Linked DNA regions of Homo sapiens: region 2 is reported to be linked to region 1. Evidence: microRNA targets listed by miRTarBase, many of them from high-throughput screens and not tested one by one. Region 1 holds a microRNA gene; the other region holds the end of a gene's coding sequence.

Region 1 (3,218 bases):
AACTCCATCTCCACTAAAAATACAAAAAACTAGCTAGGTGTGGTGGCACATGCCTGTAATCCCAGGTACTCGGGAGGCTAAGGCAGAAGAATCACTGGAACCCGGGAGGCAGAGGTTGCAGTGAGCCAAGATCGCACCACTGCACTCTAGTCTGGGCAACAGAATGAGACTCCATCTCCAAAAAAAAAAAAAATTGTATTGCTTGTGTCCTTATTGAGTTGTAACAGTTCTTTATATATTTTAGATACAAGTTCTTTGTCAAACAAATGTTTTGTAGCTTCTGGGGAAAAGAATGAAAAAGAAATTTTAAAAGAAGACAGGACTGGGACAGTGGCTGGCTGAGTGTGGCGGCTCACGCCTGTAATCCCATCACTTTGGGAGGCCAAGGCAGGTGGACCACCTGAGGTCAGGAGTTTGAGACCAGCCTGGCCAACATGGCGAAATCTCGTCTCTACTAAAAATACAAAAATTAGCCCGGCACGGTGGCGTGCGCCTGTAATCCCAGCTACTCGGGAGGCTGAGGCAGGCGAATCGCTTGAACCTGGGAGGCGGAGGTTGCAGTGAGCCAAGGTCGCACCACTGCACTCCAGCCTGGGCAGCACAGCAAAACTCCATCTCAAAAACATAAAAAATAAAAATAGAAAAAGACAAAAAAAAAAAAAAAAAAAGAAAAAAATGTTTTGCAAATATTTCTCCCAGTCTGTAACTTGCCTTTCATCTTCTTAATAGGGGCTTTCAAACAGCTAATGCTTTTAATTTTTGATAAAGTACAATTTATGGTTCACATATTTTGTATCCTAAGAAATGTAACCTAAGGTCACAAAGATCTCCTGTATTTTCTTTGAGACATTTTATTGTCTTAGATCTATGCTTAGGTTGATGAACCATTTATAGTTAATATTTATATATACAGAGAATAAGATAAGGGTTAAGATTCAGTTTTTTTCCATATGGATATCCAAGCTCTAAGACCACTGATGGAAAAAGATGGTCCTTTCTCCCTCGAATTACTCAGGCATCTGTAAAAACCTGAAGTGTCCATATACTTCACATGAGTCTATTTCTGAATTCTCTATTTTCTTTGGTTAATCTCACACAGTCTTACTTGCTACTTTACAGAAGTCTTGAAGTATGACAAGGTAAGTCTTCCAATTTTGTTCTTTTTCAAAATCCCTTGGGCTGTTCCTAGATCCCTTGTATTTCTATATAAACTTTAGAATTAGCTCATCAAGTTCTATTAAGAAATTGTAGCCTGCTGAGATTTTAAGATGGATCAAGTTGAATCTACAGATTAGTTTGGGAAGAACTGACTTAATACTTAGTCTTCCAACCCGTGTGTATGGCATATCGTTCTTGGGTCTTCTTGAATTTCTCTCAGTAACATTCTTAGTTCTCAATGTACAGATCTTGCATATATTTTGTTAAATTTATCCATAAATTTTTCATCTTTTTTGATCCTATTATAAATGACATTTAAAATTCAATTTCCAATTCTTCTTTGCTAGTATGTAAAAATCCAGAAAATGGTTTAGATTTGATCATTAGTTCCAGTAGCTTTTCTTTAGTTTTCTATCTATACAATCATGCCTGCAAACAAAGTTTTATTTCTTCCTTTCTAATCTGTCAGTTATTTTTTTTGCCTTATTGCACTGTCTTAGATTTCAAGTATGATGCTGAATGAGATAAATGGAGCAGCAAGTGGTAGTTGCTCTGCCGCCTATAAGGTAGATATTTAAGTGTGACATCTTATGAATTTTCTTGTTTAATTTTTACAACAATCTTACAACGTCAGTACAATTATTTTTATTTATTTATTGAGATGGGGTCTTGCTATGTTACCCAGACTGGTATTGAACTTCTGAGCTTAAGCCAACATCTTGCTTGTCTCCTGAGTAGAGGGACTATAGGCATGTGCCACCACACCTGGCTTAAATGTGTCATTTAAAAATTCAGGCCAGGCACAGTGGCTCATGCCTGTAATCCCAGCAATTTGGGAGGCTGAGGCAGGCGGATCACCTGAGGTCAGGAGTTCGAGACCAGCCTGGCCAACATAGTGAAACCCTGTCTCTACTAAAAATACAAGAAATTAGCCAGATGTGGTGGCATGCACCTGTAATCCCAGCAATTCAGGAGGTTGAGGCAGGAGAAACACTTGAACCCGGGAGGCAGAGATTGCAGTGAGGTGAGATTGTGCTACTGCACTCCAGCCTGGGCAACAGAGTGAGACTCTATCTCAAAAAAATAAAATAAAATTCAGTTTAGAACAGGGAAAAGAAGTACATGAAGGAGAAGATAGAGAAGCATTTACCATCTAAATGAAAAAGTATACACACACATAAAATAACTTCCAAAACAAACCAACGATTAAAGAAAAATCTAACGAGCCAACCTTACTATTACAGTTTTTGCTACAATGTGGATATGGACTATCTTAAACATGTGGTACACACACATTTCTTAAGACTTTATCTTTTATAGGCTGAGGACGTAGCCTCGCTCCTATATATTCAAAATGGTAGATTCAGCATCATGCTACCTACCTGCATTTGCGACAAGCAACAGGGGCAGTCTTCCTCGCTCTATATCATCTTTAATCAGTTTCTCCAGGAAGGCAACATCCTGGAACCAAAACAAATCATTAAAAAATGAGGTGCCCAGTATAAAAGCTATAAAATGAAAAATTATGACTTACAAAAGAAGCAGATAACTCTCAAAAGTAATGTCAAATCAATTCTTACTCTTGACAATTTTTCTGTTTTCTCTCATCATAGATGTGAAAATCAAATAGTTTTCCTTGAAGACTAGAAAAATCAGTTAAACAAAATTAAAGGTAAAAACTGTACATATGCAGGAACATTTCTTTGATTTTAAACATTTACATTTAAATGAAATGTTCTCTTAACTCTCCTAAAACAGCCAAGAATGTATCTCTACTATTACTCACTGATGTACCTGAACTAGAAAATAAAACTACCTTGACAAAAGAAATAAAAAACTCTAAAATCCATCCCTTCCTTTTCCTTCTGGAATCATTAAGGAGAGATTTATCACCTGCATGTCTGAAAATAAGCAGAACTCAATTCCATGATGACAATGAAGAACCTCATTTTCAAAATCTGCCCATTCATAAATCCAGGCAACAGTGCTAACTCATTAAAAGTAGGAGCTTCAGAAGAAATTTCTGGTGCTTAATTGAGCTGCCATGTTTCTACTTAAAG
Region 2 (3,000 bases), not on the chromosome of region 1:
GTGAGACTTGGTTCTCTCACCTGTAAAATGGGTCTACTAGCAGCTGCTTCTCCAAGCAAATGATGTCAAGCACCCAGCTCGGCACCTCACAGATGTGGTCAGTAAATGGTAATCCCAACCCTACCCTTATATGTGGACTAGAACACTTATGGCAAGTCTCGGGAGGTCATGGGAACTCCTCATGGCTCCTTCTTCATGCTGGAGGACCACGGCCTGCCCCATCCCACCCCAACACACTCTTGAAACTGAGGCCCTCGGCCTAGAGCAGCTCACACAGACGTGGACAGCTGTGCTAGCAGGTGCAGAGTCTGGGAGGCGAGGCTGGACCAGGGCCCCAGCTGGGCTTCGGGTAACCACAGGCCTCAACTGTCCAGTTGGCCAGAGGGACCTATCACCTGGCTCTGGGCCCCAGGATGCTTTAGCCACTTGAGCCGGCTCCAGGTGACCGTGTAAGTGACATAAAGCAAAGGTGTCCTGGACTGCACCACTCACTAGCTCAGCACCCCAGGCACCAGGCTGGAAACCACATCTCGCACCCAATTCTCCATTTAAAAATTTTACAGGAAGGGGCCAGGCACAGTGGCTCATGCCTGTAATCCCAGCACTTTGGGAGGCCAAGGTGGGCAGATCACCTGAGGTCAGGAGTTCGAGACCAGCCTGGCCAACATGATAAAATCCCGTCTCTACTAAAAATACAAAAAATTAGCCAGGCGTGGTGGCGGGCGCCTGGAATCCCAGCTACTCGGGAGGCTGAGGCAGGAAAATCGCTTGAACTAGAGAGGCGGAGGTGGCAGTGAGCGGAGATCACGGCATTGCACTCCAGCCTGGGCGACAGGGTGAGACTACATCTCAAAAACAAAAAACTAAAATAATAAAATTTTACAGGAAGAGAAACTATGGCCACAGTGGGGAGTGGCATGACTCCCTAAGCAAGTTCAGGTCAGACAGGGCAAAGAATTCTGACTGCAGGGAGGAGGAATGGCTGGTTTTCCAGAGATAGATCAGAACAACAGAAGCTCCCTGTGCTCCAGCCTCGGCTGTGGTGCACTGACCTCTCACCCCAGGCAGGCTGAAGAGGAAACCCCTGCAGAGGTGGCCTTGGACACCTGGTTCCTGGAAGCAGCTGGCTGCCGTCATCTGCAGGGCCTGCAGTTCCACCGCACCCTATGGCCCCCTGGGGTCACAGCCTCCCACATCCGCTAACCAGCCTCATCACTTGTTTCCGCCAGCAAACCACAGGTCCCCAGAACACACCCAGGGGAAGGGGGCTGCAGGACCTTCTCCCCCAGTCAGTCACTGTCAGTGGGCCCAAGTGCTGACCTCAGTTTAGGTTTCCCTGACATAAGGTGCTAAGAAAAATCACAAGGATTCTAGGGTCCCTGCCAGCCCCTACCTCCCTGAGTCTGTTTCATTAAAAATCCAGCCTGGAAGGTGTGCCAGGGAGAGTGACCTGCTGGAACTCCATGGCAGAAAGTAAGGGGATGGATTGGGGCTGGGCCTGAGCCAGGTATTGCCTGGAAGACTTGGGCATCTGGGTACCACCGTCCCTACGCACCCTTGGCCTGCTTAGGGTCCACTGTTCCCATCCCATCGTAGCTGTTACTTCCTCCAAAAAATCTTCCGGGAGCCCCCAGTCCCTGCACACCCAGCTGCCCTGGACACTGTGCCGTAAGCACCTCATACCCAGCTGTCCCCAGACTGGGCTGTGAACTCAGCCAGGCCAGAGGCCCCTGTCTGGAATGGGACCAGGCATGCAGGAGGTACCCAATAACTGCTCGCTAATGCAGGGAATGAAGCAGCTGTAGCTGCAGGGCCTTCTAGCTCTGTAGCCCGCTCAGTGTATGCAAGTTCTGGAACGGGGACAGCCACTCAGGAGGTACCCAGTAACCAGGCACTAATGCAGGGAATGAAGCAGCTGTAGCTGCAGGGCCTTCTAGCTCTGCAGCAGCACTGCCCTGGCCTGACCTGAGGCAGCAGAACTGGTGAGTGGGGTGTGGGCTCCCAGCCCAGACTGCCCAAGTTTGGGTCCTGATCTGTTACTCGCTGTGCACCCTGGGGAAGTCACTCAGTGACCTGCACCCTGGAAGACAAGACAACCAACTGTTGGGGTTCCCGGGTACTGCTGCGGTCACCACTTAGACATCAGCATGGGCACCCAGTAAGCTGGTAATCCCCTCCTTCCCAATCAAGCCCCAGCCACCAAGGCAAAGCTCACTGCTGCTTTATTGGAGGCAACAGCCCCTACTGGAGCCTGTGTCTTAGCGTTCCTGGGGGTCCCAGGGCCAGCCCCGGCCCCCACCCAGCTGCCCTGGCCCTGCCTGGCTCCCAGCCCACTTAGGGGTGAGTGTGATGGGGGGACCAGTGTTCCTGTCCTTGGAGCCCAGGCACAGCTTGGTCCTGGGTTTCTGGGATTGGGACAGGGCAAGTTAGTGTGGGGCAACAGAGTCCCTTCGTCCTCTGGAGCCTGGCGCCTGGTTCAGCCCTAGAACCCAACCTGCTGGATGAGACTGGCTGGGTCCTACGAGATGTCCATCACAGAGGCCCTAGGCAAGCACAGCCTTGCTCCTGCTCACCCTCCCATGTGGGCCCATGTCCGTCTGTGTGGCCTGGGGTCAGGGCCCCTGTGACTGCCTTGGCCTGGCAGCCACATGGACTGCCATCACCTAGGCCCAGTGTAGCCGTAGGGGTGCCGCAGCAGCAGGCTCTGGTGGCTGGGCAGCACGTGGGTGTGGTAGTGCTCCACCATGCTGCCCACACTCACAAACAGGACCTCGCCCTCCAGGTAGAACTTAGAGTCCTGTGGGGGAAGAGAAGGGGGAGCGTCAGCAGGGCCAGGCCACTCTGCGGCTCTAGGCCTCAGTCTCCCCGTCTGTAAAACAAGGCAGCAGCATCAACAGCGGCATCACCAGGCTGGCCCCTGGCTGTCGGTGGTGCCCCCAAGGTGGCCTCCGCATCAGGCCTGTGCTCTCCATGTTCCCACCTCACTTCCCCTCCGTCCTC

The links. Region 1 holds the annotated microRNA hsa-miR-1972 (UCAGGCCAGGCACAGUGGCUCA, at 1,950-1,971, shown strand). A microRNA usually pairs through its seed, bases 2 to 8, with sites in the 3' UTR of a target mRNA and lowers its output. Matches are read on the target gene's strand: a 7mer-m8 pairs with bases 2 to 8, a 7mer-A1 pairs with bases 2 to 7 and ends in A, and an 8mer does both.
Region 2: miRTarBase lists SH3BP2 as a target of hsa-miR-1972. Seed matches in the 3' UTR shown: 7mer-m8 at 1,717-1,723.

What each region holds. Positions count from the first base shown.
Region 1 is chr16:15,009,082-15,012,299 of GRCh38, reverse strand. It overlaps MIR1972-1 (microRNA 1972-1), which reads left to right and starts at 1,903; the gene lies at 1,903-1,979. It overlaps PDXDC1 (pyridoxal dependent decarboxylase domain containing 1), which reads right to left. Exons shown (of 23, transcript NM_015027.4): 8 at 2,541-2,619.
Region 2 is chr4:2,833,494-2,836,493 of GRCh38, reverse strand. It overlaps SH3BP2 (SH3 domain binding protein 2), which reads right to left. Exons shown (of 13, transcript NM_001122681.2): 13 at 1-2,797. The coding sequence ends at 2,660. Among named protein-coding and RNA genes, the nearest start is that of ADD1, 8.8 kb to the left of the region's middle. RefSeq lists enhancers at 956-1,005, 1,266-1,345.